4 linked regions of the Homo sapiens genome follow. The protein of the gene in region 2 interacts with the protein of the main gene of each other region in a pairwise test. Each region holds a gene or a part of one and is shown on either strand. Other genes may lie near its edges. The genes, in order: PPP1CC, LMTK2, PPP1CB and DUSP29.

What was found.
Region 1: the proteins of LMTK2 (region 2) and PPP1CC interact in binary tests that used the Homo sapiens proteins (3 or more experiments, as listed by UniProt).
Region 3: the proteins of LMTK2 (region 2) and PPP1CB interact in a two-hybrid assay, tested with the Homo sapiens proteins (one study listed by BioGRID and IntAct).
Region 4: the proteins of LMTK2 (region 2) and DUSP29 interact in a two-hybrid assay, tested with the Homo sapiens proteins (one study listed by BioGRID and IntAct).

What each region holds. Positions count from the first base shown.
Region 1 is NC_000012.12:110,725,074-110,732,891, forward strand, and holds part of PPP1CC (serine/threonine-protein phosphatase PP1-gamma catalytic subunit), read right to left. Parts: intron 6,829-7,818; coding exon 6,697-6,828; intron 5,687-6,696; coding exon 5,456-5,686; intron 1-5,455. UniProt on the Homo sapiens protein: Protein phosphatase that associates with over 200 regulatory proteins to form highly specific holoenzymes which dephosphorylate hundreds of biological targets.
Region 2 is NC_000007.14:98,101,416-98,110,162, forward strand, and holds the start of LMTK2 (serine/threonine-protein kinase LMTK2 precursor), read left to right. Parts: upstream 1-5,446; 5' UTR 5,447-5,762; coding exon 5,763-5,865; intron 5,866-8,747. UniProt on the Homo sapiens protein: Phosphorylates PPP1C, phosphorylase b and CFTR.
Region 3 is NC_000002.12:28,782,830-28,790,647, forward strand, and holds part of PPP1CB (serine/threonine-protein phosphatase PP1-beta catalytic subunit), read left to right. Parts: intron 1-1,077; coding exon 1,078-1,149; intron 1,150-5,828; coding exon 5,829-5,980; intron 5,981-7,818. UniProt on the Homo sapiens protein: Protein phosphatase that associates with over 200 regulatory proteins to form highly specific holoenzymes which dephosphorylate hundreds of biological targets.
Region 4 is NC_000010.11:75,036,395-75,042,883, reverse strand, and holds the end of DUSP29 (dual specificity phosphatase 29), read left to right. Parts: intron 1-4,806; coding exon 4,807-5,048; 3' UTR 5,049-5,412; downstream 5,413-6,489. UniProt on the Homo sapiens protein: Dual specificity phosphatase able to dephosphorylate phosphotyrosine, phosphoserine and phosphothreonine residues within the same substrate, with a preference for phosphotyrosine as a substrate. Involved in the modulation of intracellular signaling cascades.

The sequences.
Region 1 (7,818 bases), on a different chromosome or scaffold from region 2:
CCTAGAGGGAAGGGGTTTAGGAGAGACACATATCTGATCTAAAAGCAATGACTTACATTTTCACATGAAATCTTTTTAAATTCCACAGAAGCATGAAACCAGAATTCCAGATTTGATAATGATTAAGGACTGCCATCAAATCCCAGGAATTATCTGGGAGCATCAATTCTGTTTGAAATTGTCTGCTCTGTCCAATCTCACCGCAGCTAGTCCCCTACTTCTGAATTCAATTACGAACTTACACATGTGGCGTTATGACCTTCCTTCTGAGGAAACCTGAGAGTTAGCACCCATCCCCCATATATGCCCCTCAATAACCTACTGACACCAGAGGATCCCCAGCCCTCAGTACTCTAGCAGGAGGCACAATGATCACACGGCAGTGGCTGCCTCTCACAGGCACTACAGGGCATTTGTTTCCAACACTGCACAGACTCCACATGCTCCCACAGGCCTGATGTCACAGGATGGTCATGTTCCCTCAACAGCACAGGCATCCACACATTCTGGAGTCAGAGTGCAGTTCTGACAGAAATATGCCTCTATGCACTGTTTCTACAGGAAACTGATGTTCTGAGTTTAAAACCTAGTCACATACCTTGCAAGAACAAATTTCTCTGGATTGGTTGAGGATTGTCCAATTGTCCAGATGCCTTTGTTTCCTGTACTTACTATACTAAGCACAATCTTTAAAAACCAGGAGTTTGGCCAGGCGCGGTGGCTCACACCTGTAATCCCAGCACTTTGGGAGGCCGAGGCGGGCAGACCATCTGAGGTTGGGAGTTTGAGACCAGCCTGACCAACATGAAGAAATCCCGTCTCTACTAAAAATATAAAAATTAGCTGGGCGTGGTGGCGCATGCCTGTAATCCCAGCTACTTGGGAGGCTAAGGCAGAAGAGTCACTTGAACCTGGGAGGCGGAGGTTGCGGTGAGCCTTGATTGTGCCATTGCACTCCGGCTTGGGCAACAAGAGCGAAACTCCGTCTCAAAAAACAAAACAAAACAAACAAAACAAACCAAGAGTTTGTCCTTAGTCTCTTTTCCTGGGGAATACAGGGACATCTAAAGGTTTAAACCTATACCTCTCCTTTGAGAGTTAGAGCCAGCCCAAGCAACTGACCTGAACCACACCTCCCACCCTGTAATGCAAATCAAGCAGCTTAGGGAGTTTACCACAGGGCTTGAAATGAAATGTAAATTCAACAAATGTTTGCCTTCTCTCTGCAGAGGAGTGTTATCTTTTCTCCTAATAATTTCTGGTTTCTCAATGACTGGGTCTAACACTGACTATGGTTCACCCTGTTGCATATTTCTTTAGAGGTCCTTCACTAGGGGGTTCGGAAAGTTTAACAAACTTCTCCCGCCAGGCTGAGGAAGGAAAATTGCTTGAACCTGGGAGGCAGAGGTTGCAGTAAGCCAAGATCGCACCATTGCACTCCAGCATGGGCAACAAGAGTGAAACTCCGTCTCAAAAAAAAGCAAACTCCTTCTTACGAAAGGCTGAAGGGCAATCTCCAAAAACCACCAACTCCCATTTCCAACAGCAATACTACTACTACTACCACCACAGGATGAGTATCCTTAATCCAAGATGCTCCAAAATTTGGAACTTTTTGAGCACTCACATGATGCTCAAAGGAAATGCTCACTGGAGCATTCTGGATTTCAGATTTTTGGATTAGGGATGTTTAACCAGTAATTATAACACAAATATTCCAAAATTAAAAACAAAAACAAAAAACCTGCAACACTTCTAGTGCCAAGCATTCCCGGTAAGGAATACTTAACCTGTATTATAAAAACAGAGCTGCTGTCTTAGCTCCCCAGTGACAGTGACTTCCTCTTTCCCCAAGGTCAGCTTCACTTCTGGATACTTTTTTTGAGGTGGGGTCTCACTGCATCACCTAGGGGGAATGAAGCGACGCAATCTTGGCTCACTGCAACCATGGTCTCCCAGGTTCCAGTGATTTTCCTGCCTCAATCTCCTGAGTGTCCGCGACTACAGGTGTGCACCACCACAGCTAATTTTTGTATTTTTAATAGAGATGGGTTTTCCCCATGTTGGTCAGACCTCCTGACCTCTTGTGATCAGGTTGAACTCCTGACCTCAAGTGATCCACCCACCTTGGCCTCCCAAAGTGCTGGGATTACAGGCGTGAGCTACCACGCCCCGGCTTTGATTCTTTAGTTATGCCACATACTCCAGCTTCTCCTGCTGATTCCTGCTGGCTTCTCCATCAAAAATCAGTTTGTTTCCTCCTTTTCCCTCTCAGCACTTTAAGCGTGGGCCTGCCTCTTTCTATTCTCTCTTCATTTCCTCCCTAAGGCTACCTCAGACCACTAGGAACATCTGGCTCCTGAAAGGTTTAGCCAGGGTAATCGCCTAGCTTCCAAATCCTAAGATTCTGAGCCATAACCTGTAATGCGGTTTCGCATTACTGTACATCAGACAGCTACGGCAGCAGAAACAGATCAACAAACACTCATGTTTTACCCAACAACATATACCTCAGCCTTTCCATCACATTTACAAAGTTAAAAAAAAAAAAAAAAGAAATGGTAGTATAAAGTACTTATGTACCTGGAAAACAGGCAGTGGTTTTTAAATTGTCCCATGAAAATCAACATTTGAATACAACTTTTCATTTTAATAAAATTAGTTAAGTATTTTATATATATATTAAATGTCTGCAAGCCTTCAACCAAAAGCCACCTATGTCAAGGGCACTTTCATGCCCACAAGTAGACTGGATGGCAAATTATATCTGCCTGATGAGAGAGAGGAAGCTTGAGCATAAGATCTACAAATTGTGTTGATGACCAAACAGGAGTCGAAACTGATACCAACCAACACTGATCTTCTAAGTCATTTTTTAAAGGCCTCTGCATTAAGTAGAAACCGAAACTGATGCAGCCAGTATCATTACATTAGGATACACGTCACAAAAATGAGGTCAACTGGATTTGAATTCATCAGTGCAAACATGAAAAGTATTTGCTGGGCTAACAGCTATGTAAAAGGAATCCTTTAACTCAAGAGCAGGCCAGGCACGGTGGCTCACGCCTGTAATCCCAGCACTTTGGGAAGCAGAGGCGGGCGGATCATGAGGTCAGGAGATCGAGACCATCCTGGCTAACACAGTGAAACCCCGCCTCTACTAAAAATACAAAAAATTAGCCGGGCGTAGTGGCGGGCGCCTGTAGTCCCAGCTACTCGGGAGGCTGAGGCAGGAGAATGGCGTGAACCCAGGAGGCGGAGCTTGCAGTGAGGCGAGATCGCGCCCTGCACTCCAGCCTGGGCGACAGAGCGAGACTCCGTCTCAAAAAAAAAAAAAAAAACAAAAAACAAAAAACTCAAGAGTAACACTTGGAATAAGTATCCAAAACACAGTGTTGGCTGGGTGTGGTGGCTCATGACTGTAATCCCAGCACTTAGGGAGGCTGAGGTGAAAGGATTGCTTAAACCCAGAAATTACAGGTGGTAGTAAGCTATGATCCCACCTCTGCACTCCAGCCTAAGGCTCTGTCTCAAAAACAAACAAAAAAAACCCATCACACCTGCCTTGCATTTCACTACCTAAGGAGTAGTAACTGGCTTACTGGTACTTCTCTGACACAGAATCACTGTTAATATTGAATACCTTTCATGTACAAGTTCAATGCTATCAGTCAGTCCAGAACCCATAGAATTTTTGTCCCTGATGATTCCTGCCACCCCATCTTATCAGCTGGATCTCAAGGTCACAGACCAAGCAAACATCCAGTTGTGGGAAAGGGTGGTAGTAGAAGGGCTCAGTTTGTGAATATAATCTTTCTAGGATGCACTTCTAACAAATGTGCTAGCTCAACATATCTATGTGAATTGAGATGGAAAAACACTGCATCTGGAGACTCTAGGTTACGATGTGGTCTAGGGGAGGGCCACAGGGACAACCCTTTGCTGATATCCCTATAATCATATTAGCAAATGCCAAGTACCTGAAGTTCCTTAACCACCTCTTCACTCCAAACCTGAAACCCGTCCTGGCAGCAATGATGAGCACAAAAGGAAGGTGAAGGTAAAGATTCAAAACCTTTTCTGACTTGAAACCCTTTACTGAACTGATATTTTCAAAGCTTTTTTTTTTTTTTTTTTTTGAGACGGAGTCTCACTCTGCCACCCAGGCTGGACTACTGTGGTGTGATTTTGGCTCACTGCAACCTCCGACTCCTGGGTTCAAGTGATTCTCCTGCCTGAGCCTCCTGAGTAGCTGGGACTACAGGCATCTGCCACCACGCCTGGCTAATTTTTGTATTTTTAGTAGAGATGAGGTTTCCTCATGTTGGCCAGGACGGTCTTGATCTCTTGACCTTGTGATCCACCCGCTGTGGCCTCCCAAAGTGCTGGGATTACAGGCGTGAGCCACTGTGCCCAGCCTATTTTCAAAGCTTTAAGAACTGTGTTTTGTCAATAGTCAAATCGAAGTATACCTTTAATTAAACAATCCAAAATGGGTCACAAAATGTGTAAAATACTGTAAAAATAATCTTTGTTCAGCACATTTTAGTTTTAGGAAAGTTATTGCCATTCTTCCTGGGTGTGGATATGCCAGAAGGAGAAAAACTATAATAATTTCAAAAACTAATTATTTACGTATTGCAAGATTCCATTTGCATGCAATATTCTCTAGAAAAGACAAAAAGTAGATTAGTGGTTGCCTGGGGACTATGGTGATGGTCGCATAACTCTATAAATTTACTACAAATCGCTGAATTGTACACTTTTAACAGAATAATTTTATGGAATGAAATTACATAATAAAGTTGCTTAAAAAAACTATTTGGAATGGTTCTCAGATTTCTACTAAGAATTAAGTTATCTGTGAATACAACAATTTAAATCTTAAAGCAACCATTACCATGATCATTACTTCCTAATCTGATCATCACATCATAAAAGAATCCAAGACCTTATTTTATTACAGCGGCAGTGTTATTTTTCTACCCAAGAGAGAAAAAACTGGCTGGGCATCATGGCTCACGCCAGTAATCCCAGTACTTTGAGTGGCCTAGGCGGGCAGATTCCTTGAGCCAGGAGTTTCAGATCAGCTTGGGCAACAAGGTGAAACCCCATCTCTTCAAAAAAATACACAAATTAGCCAAGCGTGGTGATGCATGTCTGCAGTCCTAGCTACCTGGGAGGCTGAGGCAGGAGGATTGCTTGAGCCTGGGAGGCAGAGGTTGCAATGAGGTAAGATGGTGCTACTGCACTCCAGCCTGGGCAACAGAGTGAGACTCCGTTCCCCCACCCCCCTAAAAAAGCTAAGCTAAAAACAAGTTGATGAAATAGAAAACATGAGAGATGATACCACTGCATCTAAACTCTCACAATTCCTAACAGAAGTATGTGATAATTGTTTATGATAAATATCTTAATTTCAATAACTCTTCCTTAGATATAGAAAAGTACTTACATTCATCATAAAATCCATAAATTCTGTTGATGCTGGCACATTCATGGTTCCCTCTGAGAAGAAAAAAATTCTCAGGATATTTTATTTTGTAGGCCAGTAAGAGGCAGATCGTCTCCAATGACTGCTTTCCCCTGTCCACATAGTCCCCAAGAAACAGGTAGTTGCTTTCTGGTGGGAAACCACCGTACTCAAAAAGTCGCAGCAAATCATAGTATTGTCCATGGATGTCACCTGGAAGCAAGAATTTTGTTACACAGTGTTCCCATACTTAAAGCTCAATCCACTAACAAAGCTTTGGAAAGACATTCTTTAAATATTCATTGTACAATGGCATTGACCTCTAGTAATGAGAGTTTAACTGGGCAGCCAACACTAAGTAATTTCCAATCTTATATCATATTTAGTTCAACTGAGCTTAACAAAAATTTTAAGTATATGTGTATGTCCAGAACCTCACATAAAATTCAACTATTAAGAATTTATTCTGTGGAAAGGGTTATTATGTCCAAGCATGCATTCTTGCCAAGTAACATGGTATCCCTTTCAGGCTGACTGATCAATATCAGATCTCTGACAGCTCAGTCTCTGGGTACTGTGTCAGCAGAACTGCTGCACTTCTAGTGAGTCTTGGCCCCATCTGAACAAAAGCACATACACACATACACACCACCCCCACCCCCCACCCATCAATGCATTTAGCTTTCAATTTCTCCCTGCTAGATAATGCCAAAGAACATTTTACTTTTAAAAACATGAACACAAAGTTTTATCAATGCAAATATGCTATAAGAATATATTACTCAAACGAATAAAGTTTGGTTTTACATTGAGTTAAAACACAGATTATTTGCTTCTATTATGCAGAAAACAGAACCACAAAATCAGTATCAAGGAAGTTCTATTTTTAGCTATAACCAGTGTTGCTTTAAACTTAAACATATTCCTATACATCCATGTAGTTCAGACCTTTCCTCAGCTCTCCATTCTTAGTTTCATTTTTTTCTTTTGCAATGTTTATTCCTTCAGCAAAATATTTTTTTTAAAAATCTGAAGTACATCTAAGTAAACTAAGTCCATTAGAGGTATTTATTCTAAAGCTACTATTTAACTTACTTTTAAGTAGTTCCAAGCTATTCGCAAACAGGATAATCATTCTGCTAGCTAATACAAGGTCATCAACATATCCTTGACTCAGTTAATCAATCATGTAACAAAAGATAACCTGTGTGCCCCAAACTTACCACATATTTTGAGTGGTGCTTCAAGTTCTAGTAGGATAGGCTGACTGAGAAAGATTTCACGAGACTTTAAGCACAGTCCTCTGATTTCATTCTCCTGAAGCTGGACATTCTTACCAGGCTTGGACCCTCTCACTGCAAGAGAAAAATCGCAATTAGTCCAATGAAGCCAAAATACAAAATACAATACGAGATTTAGATAAAGGGGCAAAAACATGGTTTAACTAGCTTTCTGAGTGGCTTCATTTTCAGGACACTTATAATAAACATGGTTTTAATGTCTAATTAGAATCTTAAAATCTTAGACAAGACTTAATTGCATCTTCGATACCAAGTAAGACTTCTTTTATAGTATTCCAAAAAAGGAGCCATCCTGTCTGTGCGAATGCTGTTAGAAACAGGACTGCAGGCCAGATGCAATGGCTCACGCTTGTAATCCCAGCACTTTGGGAGGGTGAGGCGGGCAGATCATGATGAGGTCAAGAGATCCAGACCATCCTCGCCAACATGGCGTGCACCTGTAATCCCAGCTACTCAGGAGAATCGCCTGCACCCGGGAGGCGGAGGTTGCAGTGAGCCAAGATCGCGCCACTGCACTCCAGCCTGGCAACACAGCGAGACTCCGTCTCAAAAAAAAAAAAGAAAAGGAAAGAAAAGAAAAGAAAAGAAACAGGATTGGAAATACTCAGAACCCTCCCCCATCAGTGTTTTCCAGAGGACCATGGGTATCTCCTCCTGAGGATCTCTGATTTAATTTACCTATGAAAAAATGTTAGTGTTGTTTTCATTTCATTAAGAAAATGTTGGTTCATTGTACTTATTTTGCCATGCATTTTCTGGGCCTGCATTTGTGTTTATGCTCATGTCTATATAGGGCAAAGGATGTCAGTCATGTGCTATACTGTAAGAAAGCACGTTCCCTAATAATTTGAACAGATAAGATAATAATGGGAGAAAGAAATCATTGCACAGCATGGGGCATCCACACCACCAGAGCACTTAGGGTTCTTCTATCAAAGTACAAACTTTGCAACAGAACTCACTTGTCAGCACGTAGGTAGTTGTGGGAAAGAAATTTTGTTTTGGTTCCAGTTGTAACAGACTGGATAGTCATTAGATACAGAT
Region 2 (8,747 bases):
TCCTGTGTATGAAGCATATTTTCTTGTTTCTTTTTCTGTCTTGTAACAATTTTTCGAAAACTGGACATTTAAAATTGCATAATGTGGAAACTCTGGAATAGGTTTTCCCTGATATTCCCCTTCCACAGGGTTTGCATTGTTGGTGCTGTTTGTTATTGCTGTTGCTGCCATCATTCATTTTTAAAGGGCCTTTCCTGGTCTAATTCTGTATTTTGAAAAATTTGTGAATGGCCACCAAAGTCTCTGTTTAGTTAGCTTAGTGGTCAGCTAATGACTACAGAGATATCCTTAAATTCTTTTTTTTTTTTTTTTTTTTTTTTTTTGATATAGAGTTTTGCTCTTGTCATCCAGGCTGGAGTGCAGTGGTGTGATCTCGGCTCACTGCCACCTCTGCCTCCTGGGTCCAAGTGATTCTCCTGCCTCAGCCTCCCGAGTAGCTGGGATTACAGGCGCGTGCCACCATGCCCAGCTAATTTTTGTATTTTTAGTAGAGACAGGGTTTCACTATATTGGCCAGGCTGGTCTCAAACTCCTGACCTCAGGCGATCTGCCCAACTTGGCCTACCAAAGTGCTGGGATTACAGGCGTGTGCCACTGTGCCTGGCCTCCTTAAATTATTTGAGCCAATATGTCTCCCTGGTTTTGCTAAGAGTCTCTGTATGTGTGTTGGAGCATGCATCTGATGCTCTGGCAGTTTAAAATTCTGCCCCAGTCCTTACTGTGCTTGCACAGCCTCATGATCAACTAGGAATGAGAAACGAGGGCCTTCTCATGTATTTCCTAGCCATGTTCATAGCCTTGTACATGCACATGGCTTTCTAGATTTCCAATAATATGGTGGATCTTTTCAAAGCTCCCAATGACATATTATTCCCTAGATTTTTCTTTTAAGTTTCTCATCAGCCAACTGGTATCACTGGCTCAGGCAATTGCAATGTTAAACAGTTGTCACTGATTATTTTCAACAAACAGGATAGGACTATTTTCACTGAGGCATTTCTGAGTCATATCAAATGAAGAAAAGCCCTGAAAATAGTGCCTTTCTAAGGAGCTGCCAGACAGGTCAGATAGTCACAGTTCTTTGGGGATACAGGTTTTGGGGGAGCTCCAAACCTATTCTGCCCCCTCTGGTAGCTGCTAGCCTGCTTATTTCCACAGTTCCCATGGTGGTGAAGTTGCTGGTTTTCAAGGCTATCACAGAGGTGGGGAGAGAAGAATGGAAATAGGGCAAGTAAAAATTTCATGAAGCTCATTATTCTTATGAGATTTGGCCATTTTCCTTTTCTTTATTTTAAGAGACAGGGTTTCACTATGTAGCACAGGCTGGAGTGCAGTGGTGGAATCACAGTTCACTGCAGCCTCAAATTTCTGGGCTGAAGCAATCCTCCCATCTCAGCCTGCCAAAGTGCTGGGACTACAGGCATGTGCCACTGTGCCTGGCTAATTATTTATTTTTAGTAGAGATTGGGGTCTCACTATGTTACCCAGGCTGCTCTCAAACTCCCAGGCTCAGGTGATCCTCCTACCTCAGCCTCCCAAAGTGTTCGTATTACGGGCGTGAGCCACCACACCTGGCCTCAGCCATTTTTCTTTAACAAATTGACTCATGATATTGCAAACCTCTGGCAAATTCCTAGAGTTCTGAAGAAGTTTATGTGGACAATTTTGCTAGTGCTCTTCTTGCCTTCCATTCTTCAAGTATCAGTCCATTCTTGCATTGCTATAAGGAATACCTAAGATTGGGTAATGTATAAAGAAAAGAGGTTTAATTGGCATATGGTTCTGCAAGTTGTACAGGAAGCATGATGCTAGAATCTGCTTGGCTTCTGAAAGGCTTCAGAAAACTTACTATGATGGCAGTACGCAAAGGAGGAGCGAGGCATCTCACACGGTGGGAACAGTAGAGAGAGAGAGGGAGGAGGTGCTACACACTTTTTAAACAACTAGATCTCGTCAAAGATCACTCGCCATCACAAGAACAGCACCAAGAGGATGGCGCTGAACCATTCATGAGAACCCTCTCCCATGATCCGATCACCTCCTACCAGGCCCCACCTCCAAAACTGTGGATTACATCTCCACACATGAGACCGGGTGGGAACACAAGCCCAAATCGTATCCAAATGCTTCCCTCATGACCTTTGTTTTTAAAATAATTTGTTTAATTATACATTTATATAATTTATTTATTTATTTTTGAGATGGAGTCTCACTCTGTTGCCCAGGCTGGAGTGCAATGGCATAATCTCAGCTCACTGCAACCTCTGCCTCCTGGGTTCAAGTGATTCTCCTGCCTCTGCCTCATGAGAAGCCGGGATAACAGGTGCCAGCCACCATGCCCAGGCCATCTTGGCCTGGCTGGCCTTGAACTCCTGACCTCAAGTGATCCACCTGTCTAGGCCTTCCAAAGTGCTGGGATTACAGGCGTGAGCCACTGCCTATAACTTAAATTTTAACAATGGCTGTGTTGAACAACCAATGCGCATAATTCCTGAACATGTTAACAATTGGCTTTCATGAGTTGGCACCAGCAGCTCCAGGACCCCACCAACAGGCCTCCTGGGTGCCCCATTTGATCCAGCTGAGCTCTGTGAACCTTTAGAGTATCTGCTAGGTGCCAGAGCTCCAGAAGTGCTCATCCAATACTAAGCTGACTCCACATCCTTCAGCATCCAGGCCTCAGCCAGAGCTTGCTGGCAGGACAGACACTGGCAGGAGGGTCTTCCAAGCGATAGCTTGGCATGAAGGAAAACTTGAAAGAGGCTTGGCATGAAGGAAAACTTGCAAGAATGGCTGTAAAGGGCTGGGCGTGGTGGCTCATGCCTATAATCCCAACACTTTGAGAGGCCGAAGTGGGCAGATCACTTGAGGTCAGAAGTTCAAGACCAACCTGGCCAACATGGTGAAACCCTGTCTCTCCTAAAAATACAAAAATTAGCCAGGTGTGGTGGCGGGCGCCTGTAACCCCAGCTACTCAGGAGGCAGAGGCAGGAGAATCACTTGAGCATGGGAGGCAGAAGTTGCAGTGAGCCAAGATCACACCACTGTACTCCAGCCTGGGTGACAGAGCGAGACCCTGTTTCAAAAAAGAAAAAAAAAAAAGAATGGCTGTAAAACACTGAAAGATATTGCTTCTAATCTTAGGTATTGATTTCCAAATTGTGCTAAAGGCTGTTTTCTGACTTCTGGGTGAAACTAAACAAAGCCAACAGGTTTTTGTTTGTTTAATAACATCTCTAACTGGAAGTCTTCAAGTATTGAGTAAAGGCATACACGGTGAGGTGGGTGGTGGGGCAAAGGCTGCCTTTAGACATCATCTGGGGGATGTGCACTGTAACCCCTGTTCTGTGAAAGAGGAAAAGAAGTTTGTTTATTTGTTTGTTTGTTTTAACTTTTGGGCTTGCTCAAATAATAGCAAAATCTACTTTGGGATTGTGGTCCAACGTGCTGTTGGAGTGCACTTTAGTTGTAAATAACCACTACCAGGATTATCAGGTAAGGCCTTCCTTAGGCCAGCACTACAGCAGGCAGTCACGAGCCTCCTTGCAGTACACAGTGTGGGTGTCCCTGGCTTCTCTGAACTCAAAGTGAGAAGCTTCCTGATAGAAGTAGAAGTATAGGCTAGGCGCGGTGGCTCATGCCTGTAACCCCAGCACTTTGGGAGGCCGGAGTGGGCAGATCACGAGGTCAAGAGATCGAGACCATCCTGGCCAACATGGTGAAATCCTGTCTCTACTGAAAATACAAAAATTAGCCAGGTGTGGTGGCGGGCACCTGTAGTCCCAGCTACTCAGGAGGCTGAGGCAGGAGAATCGCTTGAACCCAGGAGGCAGAGGTTGCAGTGAGCTGAGATCGCACCACTGCATTCTAGCCTGGTGACAGAGACAGACTCTGTCTCAAAGAAAAAAAAAAAAGAAGTAGAAGTACAACAGGGTGATTGTGTCTCTTTCCTAGACCTTTGCCTTCCTTACCAATTCTGCATATAATCAGCAGAAAGCCGTGAACTTTTTTTTTTTTAAGACAGAGTCTCGCTGTGTCGCCCAGGCTGGAGTGCAGCGGTGTGATCTCAGCTCACCGCAACCTCCGCCTCCTGGGTTCGAGCAATTTTCCTGCCTCAGCCTCCCAAGCAGCTGGGATTACAGGCATGCGTCACCGTGTCTGGCTAATACTTTTTGTATTTTTAGTAGAGATGGGGTATGACCATGTTGGCCAGGCTGGTCTTGAACTCCTGGTCTGAAGTGATTCACCCACCTTGGCCTCCCAAAGTGCTGAGATTACAGGTGTGAGCCACCGTGCCCAGCCAAGCCATGGACTTTTAAATTCAATGTTTCTCGTTCCAGGTATTTGTCTCCTTAGATATTTATTGGCTTGCCTCAATCATCCAACAAATATTCCCTGGGCATCATCTGTGTGTCCAGTGCTGTGTTAACATCATCGACAGCTGGCATTTAGGATGGACATTTGGGGAGTTTGGAGAATTGGGGAGGTTACACTGTTGCCAGGTGGCAAAGTCTCATCTGATAAGATTGAAATCAGCTCCTCTCATGCACACACTGAACCATAGCGCCTCTCCAGAAAAGCTTAGCATTTTCCCAACCCCCATGCCTCTGACCACTATATTACTTGTGTCTGGAGAGTGCTTTCTCTATCCTCTCTGCAGGACTGTGTTCTCACCTCACCTCTTGGTGGGGAGAAGGCCACCCCTGGGAGCTGCTCTGCCCTGGTACCTGGGACCAGGGCCATGCACCATTGCTTTAGAGAACACCTGCTCCGACCCAGGTCCTGCACCAGGGATTTCCCACCAGCTGAATCAGACACAGTTGCTGTCCTCAGGGAGCTTACAGTCACGGGTCAATAGGATACTGCAGCTAGGATAGCAGTCCACACAGGGCCAGGGCGGGGCACTAAGGAGATGACAGTCATTTCTCCTAGAGAGTCATAGATGAAGTCATATGTCAGGTGAGTCTCGACAGATGAAAGGAAGAGTGTCTGCCAGGTGGACAAGAGGCAACAGCTTGAGCTCAGGAGGTGAGTCAGTGGGTGATGCCGAGAGAGGCATTCTCTTGATCAATTCAAGTGAAAAGCCCAAAGCTGTTTGATGGCTGAGAGGATGTGTAGGTCAACTTAAGGAGAAGAGCCTAAAACAGCTCTGACAAGTAAAAAAAAAAAAAAGGCAGAAGACAAGACAGGCCTATTTTTGCATGTTATAAAACACCGAGAAAAAAATATCAGGATGATTGTCATGGTCTTCTTTACATTTTCCTGTATTTTTCAATTTAAAATAATTGTTGGTGTTACCTGCTGCCCACGCACTCCTCCGTCTGCAGGGGGCGCACCGGCCGCCACCGCTCACTCCTTCAGGATGATGGGCGGGGCCTCCTGGGCCGGTGTGGACTGACGAGTGGCTGGCCGCCCTGTCCATCACGACATCCCGCCCCCGCGCTACGTCACATGACGCAGCCCATCATGGCGGCGGGAGCGCGGCTTCCCAGGCCCGCCGCTCCGCAGGGCTGCTGGCGTTGCTGCTGTTGAGAGGCGGCGGCGGCGGCGCAGGCGGGCGGGAAGGATGGTGTTTCTGCGACTGGAGCGGCAGGTGCGGACCGGGAGCCGGACCGAGGTTTGGCAGAAGCAACGTGTGCTCGGGAGCAACCGGCGCGGGTGCCACTGAGGCAGCGGAGGGAGGCAGGATCGACTGACGGGCGAACGGACGGACGGACGGAAGGCGACTCGAGGGCCGGCCCCGGAGCCGCGCCGTGGGCGAGATGCCGGGGCCGCCGGCGTTGCGGCGGAGGCTGCTGCTGCTGCTGCTGGTCCTCCTGATCGCCGGCAGTGCTGGGGCCGCGCCACTTCCGCAAACAGGTGCAGGTGAGCGGGCCCGCGGCGGGGACGGGGCTGCGGGGTCTTCGGCGTGGAGGGGAGGGGGCGGCAGGGCCGGGCCGGCCTCGGCGCCGAGGAATCGGAGGGCCTGCCGGGGGCGGGAAGCCCAGGGAGGCGAGTGATTAGGGAGATTTCTGCCGCAGGGGCGTGGGATTTGGGGGGGCGGGAGCGAGGCGACGTCGTTGGGGCTGGGGAGGGCGGCGGGCGAGGTAGCAGCCACCGACCCCTCCCGGGATAGGCTGCGGTGCCGGCCCTGGACCTGTTGCCTTAAGATCCTCAGCTTATATCGCTTCCTGGCAGTTCAGCTTCCCTTTCCAGATGTCACCTGCCTCTTGTGCTTTTTTTTCGCATCTCATAAGAACCGTTTCTTAGCCCTAATCATACTTAAATGCAAATGACTTGGCGAGCTGTGCGGAGTTTGTTTTCGCTCCTTGCAACTTATTCTGAAGTTGTAAATTGATTTTAGACGCTGTGCTTTTTATTCGGAATGTATCTCCGGGGATGAGAAGGAAACAACTATAAATATTTCTATTTTAGGAAGCCAGTGATTAGAGTAGCAGGCGTTGAATAACTATTGACAAACTGGCTTAAGGGTGATGGAAGTTTCTATTTTAGCTAACGTCAGTGTATGATTTTCTTTTCTCCCCCCCCGCCCATTTTCTCAACATCGTTTTTATTTGGGGTTTATTTTCCTAAATAAAACTTCAACCCAAGAAAACATCCCAAGTTGGGTCATTTTTCTAAAAAGGAAAAAAAAATCTAGGCTAACTTGGCGTTATTGACTGCCGCCATTACCTTTGAAATGGGGAAAGATTGAAATTTCATACATTCATAGAATGTTAGAGTTAGAAGAGACCTTAAAGAAAATTTAGACCAATTTCTTCTTTACGTAGTAGGAGATACTGGGCATGTTGGGTCAAATGACCTACCCAGGGTGACACAGCTTCGTTGTAGGCAGAGCCCCAAAGCCAGGTCTTAGATACCCCTAGTTGTATGATTTTTTTTAAGTCTTGTAACTGTTTTGGAATACTCTCGAGGTCAAGAGTTATTTTGGAATAATGTTAATTGGGTACAGAATGTGGATGTACTGTCTCCAGTAAAGACATATTTTTCAAACAAATCTACGATGAAAGCTACATGTAATTGCTTCCAGAGCTACATCAGGGTTTGTCATTGAGTGCCCTTTAGTTGAACGTTAAATGTCCTCATTGTACCGTATAATGTAGCACTAAATTTCTGTTACTGCCTTAGATCAAATACTTGTGAGGTGAATTCTGTTTTCTGATCCGATAGATAAGAAGAGTAAATGTTATCAGATGTGTATAGGCAACCCCGGAAAGAGTCACAGGAAATGCCTGGGAAATAATGAAAGATTATGTGGAAGGATGGTGATGTTGATATTTAAAGATATTGATATTGAAAGTTAGCACTAGTATAGTGTAGTAGGTAAAGAGTATTTATATGATGGGGATTCAAGAAATTTCCAGATGACTTTACACTTAATTGGATTTTTATATATTTTGAAGTATCGATTCTTTATAGGAACCTATGTCTGCCTGCACACTTTTTTTTTTTTTTTTTTTTTGAGACGGAGTCTTGCTCTGTCACCCAGGCTGGAGTGCATCATCGGTGCGATATCAGCTGACTGCAACCCCCCCCTTCCGAGTTCAAGCAGTTCTCTGCCTCAGCCTCCTGTGTAGCTGGGACTACAGGCCCCTGCCACCATGTCCGGCTAATTTTTGTATTTTTAGTAGAGACGGGTTTCATCATCTTGGCCAGGCCGGTCTTGAACTCCTGACCTCGTGATTCACCCGCCTCAGCCTCCCAAAGTGCTGGGATTACAGGCGTGAGCCACCGCGCCTGGCCACCTGTACACTTCTTACACGGTTTTTATTCCATTCTTTTACAATTTTATGGTGTCATGAATTATAAAATGAATTTTGTTGGGGTGTTGTAGAACAAAGCAATCAGAAAAGTTAATCTGTAAATAGAGATATCAAATCTTGACATACATATAGCATAAGGAAATATTTGGTAATTTGTAGCAACTTTTGCTACAAATTTTCCTTTCATATTCTGATCTTTGTAGGATAGGTGTATATGTTTTGACGTGTTGCATATGAATAATGGGTACCTAGGGTTAAAGTCTGTGGAAAAGACGCACAGTCAGGCCGGGAGCAGTGGATCACACCTGTAATCCCAGCACTTTGGGAGGCCCAGGTGGGTGGATTGCTTGAGGTCAGGAGTTCGAGACCAGCCTGACCAACATGGTGAAATTCCCTCTCTACTAAATATACAAAAATTAGCCGTGCGTGGTGGTGGGAGCCTGTAATCCCAACTATTTGGGAGGCTGAGGCAGGAAAATTGCTTGCACCCAGGGAGCGGAGCTTACAGTGAGCCGAGATTGTGCCACTGCATCATAGCCTGGGCAACAGAGTGAGACTCCGTCTCAAAAAAAAAAAAAAAAAAAAGAAAGGAAGATGCACAATCAGACATAGATATTCAGGGGCTTGTCTCTCCATCCAAAAGAGTTTATTGATCCTCGTTAGCTGAGGTGGGTTCTTGACCAAGATATATTAGACCAAGTTTAAAAAAAAACCTTTAAGCTAATCCTGACTAGTGAGCTCGCTGGTTAAAAAAGAGGAATCCCGCTTGACCATGTATGGTAGATAAAAGAGCAGTTACACGCCAAAAACCTAACTAAAGCTTCTGGTAATCTAGGAGCCTGCACTCCTTGTGAAGATAGAGCTAGACACTTTCAAATAAGGATAGACCCATTTCATAGGGTCTTTCGCCTCCTTGTTCTTCTTTCTGCTTGAAGCCTGATCAGTCTATCCAGTTTAATGGTGCCTTAGAGAAAGCATGCAGTT
Region 3 (7,818 bases), on a different chromosome or scaffold from region 2:
GCTGAAAAGATAGATGCACTTGCCTAGGCCCGAGGTAATAAATGGTTTATTCTCTGGCAGAACATAATTCACTATATTAATTGAAATATGTTTTCCAGTAGACATTAAACACGTAATGAATTGTAGTTCTTGTACATTAGTGTAGCTAAGGATAGAAGTGTAGCAGTATGGATACGAATGTTTAGCTTCATTCCTTGTGATGATACTTGGATTGCCTATCAGAGAGAAATAATAGCTTATATACCACTTCAAAGATTGCAGAGTATTTTTATGAGCTTTTCCTGTTAATCCTTCTGATCAATAGTTTATGACTTCATGAAGATAATGAACATGTTGGAGTGGGATGTGAAAAGAAGGTCTTAGGGAACCAAGTGAGGCACTTTCACTTAGAAGTTAAAATGTTTAAGATTAGTGGTAAGAACTGGCAAAAGTGGTAGGAAGGGTTGCAGTTGATTATGTTTCTATGAAGGCCAGGGAATGATTGGAAAAAAGAATGGTAGTTTTTTTTTTCCTTGGGAAGTCTTTTGAAATATAAAGGAATTTCATTTCCCTGGTAGGGAAAAATGGAAAAAAACAATTATAATGCTGTATTATATCAAAGTGGAATTCCTAATAACTCTGTGTTGCCCTTTAAGACATTAAAAGGGGCAGGGCGCGGTGGCCCACGCCTGTAATCTCAGCACTTTGGGAGGCCAAGGTGGTTGGATCATGAGGTCAAGAGATCGAGACCAGCCTGGCCAACATGGTGAAACCCCGTCTCTACTAAAAATACAAAAAATTAGCTGGATGTGGTGGCGCGCGTCTGTAGTCCCAGCTACTCGGGAGACTGAGGCAGGAGAATCGCTCGAACCCGGGAGGTGGAGGTTGCAGTGAGCTGAGATCACGCTACTGCACTGCAGCCTGGGTGACAGAGTAAGATTCTGTCTCGAAAAAAAAAAAAGACGTTAAAAGGAACACTTTTCAGTATCTTTAATTTCACATAGTGAATCTATTTTGATTAAATGCTTTTTATTCGGTGACTGTTAAAATATTAAAATTTTTAGCTGTTAGTACTATGTCTCATCTTTTTATTTATAGGATTGTCACCAGACCTGCAATCTATGGAGCAGATTCGGAGAATTATGAGACCTACTGATGTCCCTGATACAGGTAAGTGTAGAGAGAAGTTTAATTGTTTTGTGTAAAGTGTTTTCATATTTGAACTTGATTACATTTAGTGGAAGTAGGATTGGCTTATGTAATAAATAAAAGAGCTTTTTTCATAGTCAATAAGCCAGCTACAGATTACTTTATTTGCAGTAATACACAATTTTTCACTTTGCACTGATCCTCAAAATGCGGAACCTTTTTATTTATAGTCATAATGTAGTTATTTGATCACAAAAAAGATTTTGCTGTTGAGTCCTTATACCTATTTTTCTAAATTCCCTCATTCATACTAGCATTGGTTATGTTCTTCAAAAATTTGTTAAATTAGACAAAAGTTTTTTAATTAAAATAATCTATTCTTTGCTTCTTAGGCAAGGATACAACTACCTTCTTTTCAAATGTCTAGTAGTTTTTTGTTATTTTCTATGTCCTCTATTTGAAATTTTTAGAGCTTTTTTTCAAGGGGGTGTGGGAGGGATTTCAATCTGTTGCCCAGGCTGGCCTTGAATTCCTAGGCTCAAGCAATCCTCCTGCCTCTTCTGAGTAGCTAGGGGACTCCAGGCATGTGCCATACCTGGCTTAAATTTTTAGAGCTCTTAAGGCTCTAGAGACCTGTGGTCAGTTTTGTGAAAATTACATTGGAAATCTCTGGGAAGGCTGGGAGCAGTGGCACTCACGCCTGTAGTCCCAGCGCTTTGGGAGGCTGAGGTGGGCAGGATCACTTGAGGTCGGGAGTTCCAGACCAGCCTGGCCAACGTGATGAAACCCCATCTCTACTAAAAATAACAAAAATTAGCTGGGCATGGTGGTGCGTTCCTGTAATCCTAGCTACTCAAGAGGCTGAGGCACGAGAATTGCTTGAACCTGGGAGACAGAGGTTGCAGTGAGCCGAGATCACACCACTGCACTCCAGCCTGGGTGACAGAGTGAAACTGTCTCAAAAAAAAAAAAAAAAAGAAAAAAGAAACAACAATCACCACAAAAAATGCTGCTCAGAACTACACATCAACCATTATAAATGGTATAGATCCTCTGATGTCAGTAGCCATGTAATACACTGTATGTTGTAATAAATTGTGTTAGGAGCTTTTTTTTTTTTTTTTTTTTTTTTTTTTGAGACAGAGTCTTGCCCTGTCACCAGGCTGGGGGGCAGTGGTGCAACCTCGGCTCACTGCAAGCTCTGCATCCCGGGTTCAAGTGATTCTTCTGCCTCAGCCTCCCGAGTAGCTGGGACTACAGGCGCCCGCCACCACACCCGGCCAATTTTTTGTATTTTTAGTAGAGATGGGGTTTCACCATGTTGGCCAGGATGGTCTCGATCTCTTGATCTTGTGATCCACCCACCTTGGCCTCCCAAAGTGCTGGGATTACAGGCGTGAGCCACCACACCTGGCCTGTGTTATGAGCTTTTTTACATAACACGACTTGTTGTGTTGATTATTTTTTAAAGTATGCATTTTATCACAGTTTTTGATTGTAATTATAGAATACATTTGACTAAACCTAACAAACTGGTATTTAAATAGTATTTTATTTAAAATGCTGTTTTTAGGCCTGGTGCACTAGTTCATGCTTGTAATTCCAACAGTTTGGGAGGCCAAGGCAGGAAGATCACTTGAGGTGAGGAGTCGAGACCAGCCTGGGCAACATAACACCCATCTCTACAGAGAAAAAAAAAATTTTTTTTTTTAATTAGCCACATGTCGCAGCACCGCGGCTACTCAGGAGGCTGAGGCAGGAGGATCACTTCAGCCTGGGAAGTTGAGGCTGCGGTGACCTGTGATTGTGCTCCTGCATTCTAGCCTGGGTGACACAGTGAGACCCTCTCTTTCAAAAAACACCCAAAGTGCTATTTTTAAAATAAGGTATAATATAAATATGTATTACTGGTCATTCTTCAGAATATCTGTTTATAGTTCAGATGTAAACTGATCTAGTGTGATATGCTAGGCTTCTGTTTTTAGCATGTTTTATTTATTTTAGCGTATTTTAATGAGAAGTTTTCAAGATGCTGAAAACAGTTATTTTGATCTTTGATAGTGTCTGCAACATTCAGAAATTTAATTTATAAGTTAATACATTATTTGAAGCAGCCTAGTTGATTGTGATGCTAGCTCATTAAACAATAAATCTTGACTCTGAAATTCTTTTTGAGACAGAATTTCACTCTTGTCGCCCAGGCTGGAGTGCAATGGCCTGATCTCGGCTCACTGCAACCTCCACCTCCCAGGTTCAAGCAGTTCTCTTGCTTCAGCCTCCCAAGTAGCTAGAATAACAGGTTCCTGCCACTGTGCCCAGCTAATTTTTGTATGTTTAATAGAGACAGGGTTTCACCATGTTGGCCAGGCTGGTCTTGAACTCCTGACCTCTGGTGATCCGCCCACCTCGGCCTCCCAAAGTGCTGGGATTACAGGCGTGAGCCACCATACCTGGCCTGAAATTCTTATCTAGACCCTGTTAAGGTTAAAGAATTCCAGATTGTTGTTGCTACCATTATTTGATTTTTTTAATGCATCCAGAGTGTCATGTTTCCTAAACCTCAAACTCTATTCTAATTTTATACAGTTTTATTGTCTCACTGAAATTATAGATTCTTGAGATCGAGACCATCCTGGCTAACACGGTGAAACCCCATCTCTACTAAAAATTCGCTGGGTGTGGCAGTGGGCGCCTGTAGTCCCAGCTACTCGGGAGGCTGAGGCAGGAGAATGGCATGAACCCGGGAGGTGGAGCTTGCAGTGAGCCGAGATCGTGCCACTGCACTCCAGCCTGGGTAACAGAGCGAGACTCCGTCTCAAAAAAAAAAAAAAAAAAAAAGAAATTATAGATTCTTAATACCTTAGCTTTCTACTGGAAAGAGGCTGGAAAGTATGAAAGCATTATTAAGCACTGGGTGGGTGTATATTTTCGAAGAGTCAGCTTCAACCAGAAAGGGCTTAAGAATTGAGACTGACTATTCCAGTGGATTTTGTGTGCTAGTGAATTTCTTAAAACAACATACAGGGAGCTTGGGATATATCAATGATAGAGATTGAATACATTGCCACTAATTCTACAAATGGTTTTATAATGCCTCTATCAAGATATGATGTACTGTAACTGAAAATGAAGATGCCCTTTCCTCCTAAACCATACTATGATGTTTATGGATTATTTAAAATTCTTAAAACTGACTTAACTCTTTAAAAATTATCTTCTTGGCTGGGCGCGGTGGCTCACACTTGTAATCCCAGCACTCTGGGAGGCCGAAGCGGGCGGATCACGAGGTTAGGAGATCGAGACCATCCTGGCTAACACAGTGAAACCCCATCTCTACTAAAAATACAAAAAATTAGCCGGGCGTGGTAGCGGGCACCTGTAGTCCCAGCTACTCGGGAGGCTGAGGCAGGAGAATGGCGTGAACCCGGGAGGCAGAGTTTGCAGTGAGCAGAGATTGCACCACTGCATCCCAGCCTGGGCAACAGAGCGAGACTCCGTCTCAAAAAAATATATATGTATCTTCTCTTAGCCACTGCAATTCTTAGAAAATCACCATCACCATCTCAACATCCACCCTTCTTTTAATATCACTACAGTTGGACTTTTACCCACTCCGTTACCCTCAATCACCAAGAAACTTGCATTGAGGTCTGATGATTTAATTGTAAGTGGCACATTTTTGGTCTTCGTCCTACTGCCCTTGTTCATGGCACATTTCCTACTTTAGGACGATTGTTTCCCCTTTCGGGATACGTTTACTATACTAAGCCCTTTGTCTTGATCATTCCTTCTCAATACCTAATGTTCATTCTCCCTCATCTACCTGCCTATTAAATGTTTGAATTCCTCAGAATTCATTTGCTGGTCTTCTCACTTTGTATTCCTAAGGTGGTCTGAGTCCCTCTTAAGATTTCCACTACCATTAATATGATGACAATACTCAAGTAAATATTTTTAACCCTGACCTCTTTTCCAGGGCTCCAAACATTACCAAAGTCAAGGATCTGATCTGATTTTGTTCTTCCACATTTAAAAAAAAATCCTCAGGGTCTCAGTAGAAAATGTTTTTTTTTCGCTCAAGTGATCTGTAGATCAAATACAATTCCAGTGAAATCACAATTGAGTTTTTTATGGAATTAGGCAATTGTTTTTAATGTTTATGTGGAAGAACAAAAGATCAAAAAGTAACCAAGACAATCCTGAAAAAAAAATGGAGGATACTAGCCCTACCAAATATAAAGACTTATTAAAAAGCTCTAGTCTGTTATTGGCTCAGGGATAAGTAAAATAGACTAACAGAATAGACTGTGGTGCTCAGAAACAGTGGAACCGTAAGGAAAGGATGAACTGTTGAGGAAATACCACTGGGTTGTTTGGTTATTCATATGGAGAAACTACCCAAAAGATGAACAGCCTTTTCCATGTATTGTTGTGCTGTAAGTGCCATGCACATATTTCCTATATGTGGAAAGGGTTGGAAAGTACTACCTTAAGAGGCCATGGAAGATTATATTTGTATGGTTTGTATGGTTGCTTTAACAAAAGTATAAGTTACATAGGCTGGAATACTTAGGCAAGTGATGGTCATTGTTTAGTAAAAGGTAAGAGGGCAAGAAAGGAACTGAAATTTGATGTAGATGTGCTATATTCTATAAATCTGTAAATTTTGTTCTTAATTGCTGTATTTCTGTCCTTTAAAGGTTTGCTCTGTGATTTGCTATGGTCTGATCCAGATAAGGATGTGCAAGGCTGGGGAGAAAATGATCGTGGTGTTTCCTTTACTTTTGGAGCTGATGTAGTCAGTAAATTTCTGAATCGTCATGATTTAGATTTGATTTGTCGAGCTCATCAGGTATGAAATATAAAACTCTTAAGCTTTTTCTTTTTTCTTTCTTTTTTTTGGGGGCAGACGGAGGGGCAGACAGATTCTTGTTCTGTCACCCAGGCTGGAGTGCAATGGCGCAATCTCTGCTCACTGCAACCTGTGCCTCCCGGGTTCAGGCAGTTCTTGTGCCTCAGCCTCCCAAGTAGCTGGGACGATAGCCGTGTGCCACCACACCTGGACTCTTAAACATTTATTATTTGTTAACTTCACATAAGCCCTCTCATTTTGTTTTGAGGAAACATATCCAAGAAAGCTAAATGAGTTGTACAAGGAAAGCAGTAGGAGAGGTGGCAGAGCCAGTTCCTGGATCTCACACTTAACAATCTAGTGATTTGTTAACCTTTTATCACCCTAAAAGAGGAAATGTTTAGAAATATTTTGGGGCTGGGCATGGTGGCTCACATCTATAATCCCAGCACTTTGGCAAGCTGAGATGGGTGGATTGCTTAAGTACAGGAGTTTGAGACCAGCCTGGGCAACAAAATGAGATTCCATCTCTACAAAAAAAATCAAAAATTTAGCTGGGTGTGGTGGTGCGTGCCTGTGGTCCCAGCTACGTGGGAGGCTGAGGTGGGAGGATCGCTTGAGCCTAGGAGATCAAGGCTGCAGTGAGCCATGTTTATGTCACTGCTCTCCAGCCCTTGTGAAAGAGCTAGACCCAGTCTCAAAAAAAAGAATGTATTTTTGTAGTATACAGCAAACCTAACAAAATTTTCAGTGCTTCTTTGAAGCTTTGTAGATATGATTTAGATTTTTTTTTTTTTTTTTTTTTTTGAGATGGAGTCTCACTCTGTCACCCAGGCTGGAGTGCAGTGGCACAATCTCTGCTCACTGTAACCTCCGCCTCCCAGGCTCAAGCGATTCTTCTGCCTCAGCCTCCGGAGCAGCTGGGATTACAGGCACGCACCACCACGCCTGGCTCATTTTTGTATTTTTAGTAGAGACAGGGTTTCACCATGTTGGCCAGGCTGCCCTTGAACTCCTGAGCTCAAGTGATCTGCGCCTCAGCCTCCCAAAGTGCTGAGATGACAGGCGTGAGCGTGAACCACTGTGCCCAGCCTCATTTTTATATAATCTTTGTGCATAATGGCGATTTTGATAAGAGCAAACCACACTTTAAAAAAGTATTTTTGAGACCATTGAAGAATTTGATTGTGGCTCAGTGCAGTGGCTCATGTCTGTAATTCCAGCACTTTGGGAGGCTGAGGCAGGCAGATCCTTTGAGCCCCAGGAGCTGGAGACCAGGCTGGGCAACATGACAAAACTCTGTCTCCACAGAAGATACAAAACAGCCAGATGTGGTGGTGTGCACCTGTAGTCCCAGCTTGCTTGGGAGGCTGTGGCAGGAAAGTCGCTTGAGCTCAGGAGGCAGAGGTTGCAGTGAGTGTAGATCGTACCATTTCACTCCTGCCTGTGCAATGGGTGTGAAACTCAGTCTCAAAAAAAGAGAACATTTGATTGTAGACTTGGTAATAGGTATGAATTATTTAATCTTTTAATTTTTTGTTTTTGTTTGAGGCCGAGTCTCACTCTGTCACCTAGGCTGGAGTGCAGTGGCATGATCTCGGCTCACTGCAACTTCCGCCTCCCAGGTTCAAGTGATTCTCCTGCCTCAGCCTCCCGAGTAGCTGGGACTACAGGCGCCTGCCACCACGCCTGGCTAATTTTTGTATTTTTAGTAGAGACGGGGTTTCACTATACTGGCCAGGCTGATCTCAAACTCCTGACCCCAGGTGATCTGCCCACCTCAGCCTCCCAAAGTGCTGGGATTACAGGTGTGAGCCACTGCTCCTGGCCGGTATCAA
Region 4 (6,489 bases), on a different chromosome or scaffold from region 2:
CTCTGACTTCAGCCCAATGTGTCACACACCCCTTTGTGGAGCCATCACATAATTCAGGGTATCTGGTTACTGAAAGCCTTTCTTGCCACAAGAGGTTGTGATTACAAGGCTCAGTGACTGACCAAATAGTCTGCTGCAGGAACTTGCAACCTGGGGCTGGGCCTAGGCCAGGTCTGCTGGACAATATCAGACCTTAATGGACATCCCAAGGTGGCCCTGGCCCCACAGCCAACCATAGCCACCAACAATTTGTCATTATTTTGGCTCAGAAAGCAATGTCACAATGAAAAAAAACCCTTAGAGCTAACATGCCTGTATTAGAAGATGCCTCATTTCCAGGCCTTCCTTTTATGAGTCTATTTATGAACCATCTTTTGTGCTGTGTACATTCTGGGTTTCCAAGCAGGATCAAAAACACAACTGAACTGAGTCATCACCACAAGGTAAAATTTGCCTCATAGTATTTGAAGTTAACTGAAAACACATTTGACATGAAAAAAACAAAGACTGCAACAACCTAATCCTTCAGTTTCTGTTTAATGCACTCACTTGCCATTACTATATTTTAGACCTTACCCTTCATGGAAGGGGCCTGGCAGGCTTCGGAGAAGACAGGGCTGGGTTTACATTTCTGTCACACAATTTACTAACGATGTGATTTCTCTGAGCCTTGGTTTCTCCATCCGGTGATAAAAATATTTACCTTCAGAGGTTATAATGAGGATCAGCAGTAACGCGCGTAAAGCGCTTAGCATAGAACCTGGTGGACAGCAGGCTCTCGGATGTATTTGATAAAGCGTGGTCATACACTGTGAAGCATATAACCACGCCAGCATGTGCACATCATCATCGTAAAGTTTCCAATCCTCAAAGAAAAAAAAAAGACATTCCAACTTTGAACTGTAAGATATACTCACATGAAAGCTTGTTGTAGGTTCCTGGCACTCAATTTTAGGGTCTGCCCCCACTGCCAAATCCAGAAAGAATCAGGCTCTCAAGTTGAAGCTTAGGCCTAGGCAGATGACAGAACATTATGAGGAGGTGTCAGGCTGCTGTGGATCATGACTGTTAGACCAGGTGGCACCTAGCAAACAAAGGGCCAACGGAGGAGAGTAGATACTTGGATCAGAGACTATGAGTGGGATAGAATGAATGGATGGGGGTGCCGGGACTCGACCAGATGGCTAGGGATGGGGAGCAGGACATGACCCCACTGGAGATGGCAGGGTAGGCTCTGCTCTCAGCACCTTTGCACTGGCATATCTAAATAATTCAAGTCAGGGCTCAAACGCCTACCCTGCAGAACCATGCAGAGTGTAAACAAATGAAGATGGCTGCATGTACAGCGGAGGGGTGTGGGTAGGGGGCACTTGTGGCTAAGCAGAGAGCCCTGTACCCCTTCAGAGGGGCACCTGCCACCCAGCCTCAGCTAATGCTTGTCTTGTGAGAGTCAGTGCAAATGTGGGAGATCTGACTTTTCAGAAGTCTCCAATCTGGATTATAAAATCACTCGATTTTTAGGTCTTGGCAACAGATTGAAATTTCTTAAAATGCTGCAAAGGACAGACTAAAGCAACCCAATGGCCATCAGGTTGTAACCTGTGCCCTGAGTGGCCAGAGCAACCAAACAAAATGCCCGCTAGCTCAGCAGCAGCAATGCCACAGACTTCATACCCAGTGGACGGCAGGTGCTCAGCCCACCTGCCACATGCAGTTGTGTCTAGGCAAGGGACACTGCTTGGCATTTTAGTGCTGGACCTACTTGTATGTTTCTTACACTCTCTATGTAAGTGGTGTGGATAGACAGTCTGGCCAAAAAGCAAGGCATCACTCCTTGCTTCCTCTTGTCTATGTTCTTTGTTCTCATTGACTGGTTTCAGCCAAGTGTACACCATTCCCCCTACCTGGCTTCTCACAGCCGGTCATTTTCACTCTTTTTGAAAAGCGTTCCTTGTGGAGCTGTACTCGTGGGCTGTAATCAGCCCCTGGGGCCCTCTCCCATCCCATCACTACCCTGACTTGACCCTTTATAAAGAACTCCCCAGGCAACCTCAGTCACTCTTAAAATATCTCGGAGATAATCCAGTCCCTGGTCCTGCCCTGACAGCTGGGCAAACAGAGGCCCAGAGAAGACAAGTGAGGTGCCCAGGGTCACAGAGCTAATCAGAGGCAGCGCCATCAGGACACCTGCCTACCAGCGGGGATTCCTTCTGTCACCGAGGCCTCACAGAAGAGTCCTCTGCCCTTATTTTGAGCACCTGGTGACTTTGCTGTATAAGAGGTCACCGAATATCATGGAGGGCGAGTCATGCCAGCTGGTTATAGGATCTGAAAAAACTGAATTTGTCACTCTTCATCAGAAAAAGAAGTACTCACAAAATACTGTCACAGGAACCCCACTTGGGTTGCTTTAACTGCCCCCGATTCGGCATCCTCCGAGGTGAATTAGTGTGGTTTTAATTTAATGAAGTCTTCTAAGAAACTCCAGGGCAAATGCCACGAGGCGCTAAAGATCAGACTTTAGTATCACGCTCTCCTTTTGGCAGTCCATGGCCTGCTTCTGAAGGCATCTTAAAATATATTATGGATAAGGGAAGTATGAATAAATAAATGAAGCCTGCTTTCAAGCAGGAGGTTGATTCTCTGGTGCTTCTAATAAGCTTTAACCGACCAGATTTTCACTGTTTGGTTTTTGTTTTTGTTTTTTTGAGACGGAATCTCGCTCTGTCACCCAGGCTGGAGTGCAGTGGCGTGATCTCCACTCACTGCAACCTCCACCTCCCGGATTCAAGCGATTCTCCTCTTTCAGCCTCCCAGGTAGCTGGGAGGTGCCCACCACCACACCTGGTGAATTTTTGTATTTTTTAGTAGAGACAGGGTTTCACCATGTTGGCCAGTCTGGTCTCCAATTCCTGGCCTCAAGTGATCCACCCACCTCGGCTTCCCAAAGTGCTGGGATTAGAGGCATGAGCCACCACGCCCAGCCGATTTTCACTGTTGGAAGGGTCTCTTGCCCTATCTCCCTCCAGCCCCGGCAGTTCATAATACACCTTGCACCTTGTTTCTCAGAACTTCCACACACCTAGAACCTCTTGGGAAGAAGTAAGGGCTCTACCAGAATTTCTTTGCAAGTTACTAAGAAAGGCAGGTTCCCAGATAGTGCATGGGAGATGGGCAGAAAGCATCTCCTGAAAGCAAGGAAGGAGTCTGCTTAGCAAGGAGCACACCTGGCTGCGGGGCGGAGCGTGGTGCAGGGTAACAGTCTTAGCCTACGTCTGATTTTCGTGACAGAGGCCTACCTTCCAGTCACTCCTAAAAGCATGCAATTGAGGAGCAGTAGAGATTCTGGATTTGGGTTTCCTTTTCTTGAGATGCAGTCTTGCTCTGTCGCCCCGGCTGGAGTGTAGTGGCGCGATCTCAGCTCACTGCAACCTCTAACTCCTGGGTTCAAGCAATTCTCCTGCCTCCGCCTCCTGAGTAGCCGGGACTACAGGTGCACCACCACGACTGGCTAATTTTTGTGTAGAGATGGAGTTTTGCCATGTTGGCCAGGCTTTAACCACATGGGCTCCAGGTGCTCTGACTGTATGTGAGAACATAAGGACCTGCAAGCATAGGTATGCACTAGCTGCTGCTGTTCCTAAAGATGAACTGTGGTCAGGCATGCCTCAAGGGCTCTGACTGTAGTCATGAAGAAAAGTATCTCCAAGCATGAGAGGGGCGCTGATCTCTCCCACTGCAACAAGTGTGCTCTGGCCAGGGGGACCCTAGGAGCTCTGACAGAAGTTGGGAAATAAAAGCCCAACACAGGTATAGTGCTGGCCCCTGTGATGGTAAGAGATGTGCTCTGGCATGATGGGTCTCAGCTAATCTGACCACAAGAAGGAACAAAAGTGTTGCCTGGACCTTGATTCTTCTCAATAGGCCTGACTCCTCCAATAGTAACACATGTGCATTCACCCAGCTTGAACTCCCAACCTCAAGTGATCCGCCCACCTCAGCCTCCCAAAGTGCTGGGATTACAGGTGTGAGCCACCGCGCCCGGCCTCATGCCCTAGTCTTGGAAACAAAATTCAGCTCTTGGAACTCCTACCAGAGCTTAGTGTCCTCTGTCCCTCCTTTTCCCCTTTCTCTCCTGCTCCCTCCACCTCCCCCTCTCCTCCCACCCCCTCCATCTCCCTTCCAACTCTTTCTCCCCTCCCCTCTGCCACTTAACAGAATTCAGGCCCCCAAAAGGCTTAATGAACTACAGCTTTCATCTGTTTCAAGTACTGAGTCATGACAGAAAGAATTACCCTGTTTTCTGGGAGAGGAAGAAACGCTTTGGTTATCAGCAGGGCTGGCCAGAGGCCCGGCAGCCTCCAGAAAGGTCCGTGGGATTTGAATGCCAGGGGTGGACATTCATCCAGCTGGACACGTTCACACCCCAGGAGCGCGGTCATGCCAGGGAGAACCTGGGACCAGCCTCCCCCAGATCCGAAACAGCAATCAAGAAGTGGGTGCTTGCTTTCTGGCCATGGTGCTCAGGGGAAAGGCAGCCCAGCCACACTGTAGGAGCTCAGCAGCCATTCATTAGCACAAACAAATTGTGCTAAAATCGAGTTATTTACAGGGTTATTTGCCTTCTCAACAACCCTATGAAGAAGACACCGAGAGTGTCCCCGTTCTACAGAGGCAGCTGTGGGGCACAGTGCTGAGTCACTTTCTGTGGGCGAGAGGGTGACAGTCAGGATGGGAGTGGGCCCTACCTGTGCCCCCAACACCTGCCCCTCAGTGTGGGTTTTCTCCTCCCTGCTCCATCTGCAGGTAAGATCCTGGTTCACTGCGTCATGGGCCGCAGCCGGTCAGCCACCCTGGTCCTGGCCTACCTGATGATCCACAAGGACATGACCCTGGTGGACGCCATCCAGCAAGTGGCCAAGAACCGCTGCGTCCTCCCGAACCGGGGCTTTTTGAAGCAGCTCCGGGAGCTGGACAAGCAGCTGGTGCAGCAGAGGCGACGGTCCCAGCGCCAGGACGGTGAGGAGGAGGATGGCAGGGAGCTGTAGGCCCGACTCACAGGGCCAGCAGAGGCACTTGGGGACAGAGGGGAGAGGCAGAACATAGCCCTGGCCTAGGACTCCAGAGAAGGGATGGTGAAACCGAAGCTCGACTCTTCCAAACCATCTTGTTCAACTTCCCCATGTGTGCTGGGGACAGGGAGGACCCAGAGCTGCCCCCGGGCAGAGCTGAGCGCTCAGCCTCTCAGCAAAATGGGAGGGACGGGCTCCCCGGCTCTGGGTCACAGAGGAGCATGCCACGCTGCACCAAGTCTCCTGCTTTGGTTTTGTTTTTTTGGTGAGAAGGAAGAGGGAAAAGATTTTAAAATGTGTAGGCAGTATGTTGTGATTAAACGTTTGGCTTTGTCTGAAAGGAAAGTCATCTTCTTATAAAAAGTATTTTAAAATAGAAATTGCTTTTCCAACCACAGAACCGTACCAGGTGAGCAGTGTCACGGGAGTGCCTGCGTAGCTGTGGAGGCTCCTTCCCGGGCATCCTGCGTTTCTGTGGCATCCCTTGCACGCCGCTTGTCTTTTCAGCGGAACCCCTAGGCTCACGCCACCATCTCTAGATGTGCTCCTCCAGCAGGGTGGGGAGGGGTCCTGAACCTCTGTACAGAGGCCCCTGCTTTAGGCTTCCCCCACTTTCCCAAGGGACGCAGGGCTCCTCAGACTCTTAGCCAGGGCTGCCACTACTCAGAAAAATTCAATGAATTGTGGTGAGTTTGGACAAGTAGGAGTTTGACTTTCTAATTTTGGGGAAAAAAAGGGAGGAGACCCTCTCTAGCGGGGACCTCAGGGAGGCTCTTTTCACGTGGGTTCTAGTCAAAGCAACACGAGCTGCTTTTCAGTCATAGCAGAAAGTATTTGCAAATTGTTGTCTGCTGTGGAATGGGACGATGGGGCAGCCAGGTAAGCTCAGGTGTGGAGTTTGCCTCCCTGAGAGCTAAGCCAGGCACGATGGCTGCGTGATTTCCACTCTGAAGGAGAAAACGGCAGCAGACATGAAGCGGGTAGTGACAGCTTCCAGGGCCAGGAATCCCAAACCAGACAGAAACCAAAGAGAGTTGCTGCTGTTGGAGATGCCGGCCGTCAAGGACCAGGCATGGAAATGGCCTGGAGAAACCAGAATGTGATAAAGGCCTTCTAGGAAAAAACGAAAAGGGGCCCGGTTCTTCAGTTTGGTTGTAGTTTTCAGCAGAATGAAAGAGGAAGTTATTGATGGGTGGAGGAGAGAGTCCAGGGCCTCAGCAGAAGTGTAAGCCACCTGAGAGTCACCCTGTGACCTTTGGGGATATGCCCTGCTTTTGTGCCCCTGTGGCTAGGCCTGGCTTCCTGGGACTGCCCTGAGTCTGCTCTGAGAGTCGCCTTGGCCCAGGAGGAGCCAAGGCCCTCATGTTAACATGCACACAGGGCTTGGGGGGGCATTCCCCGGGGACTCCCTCATGGT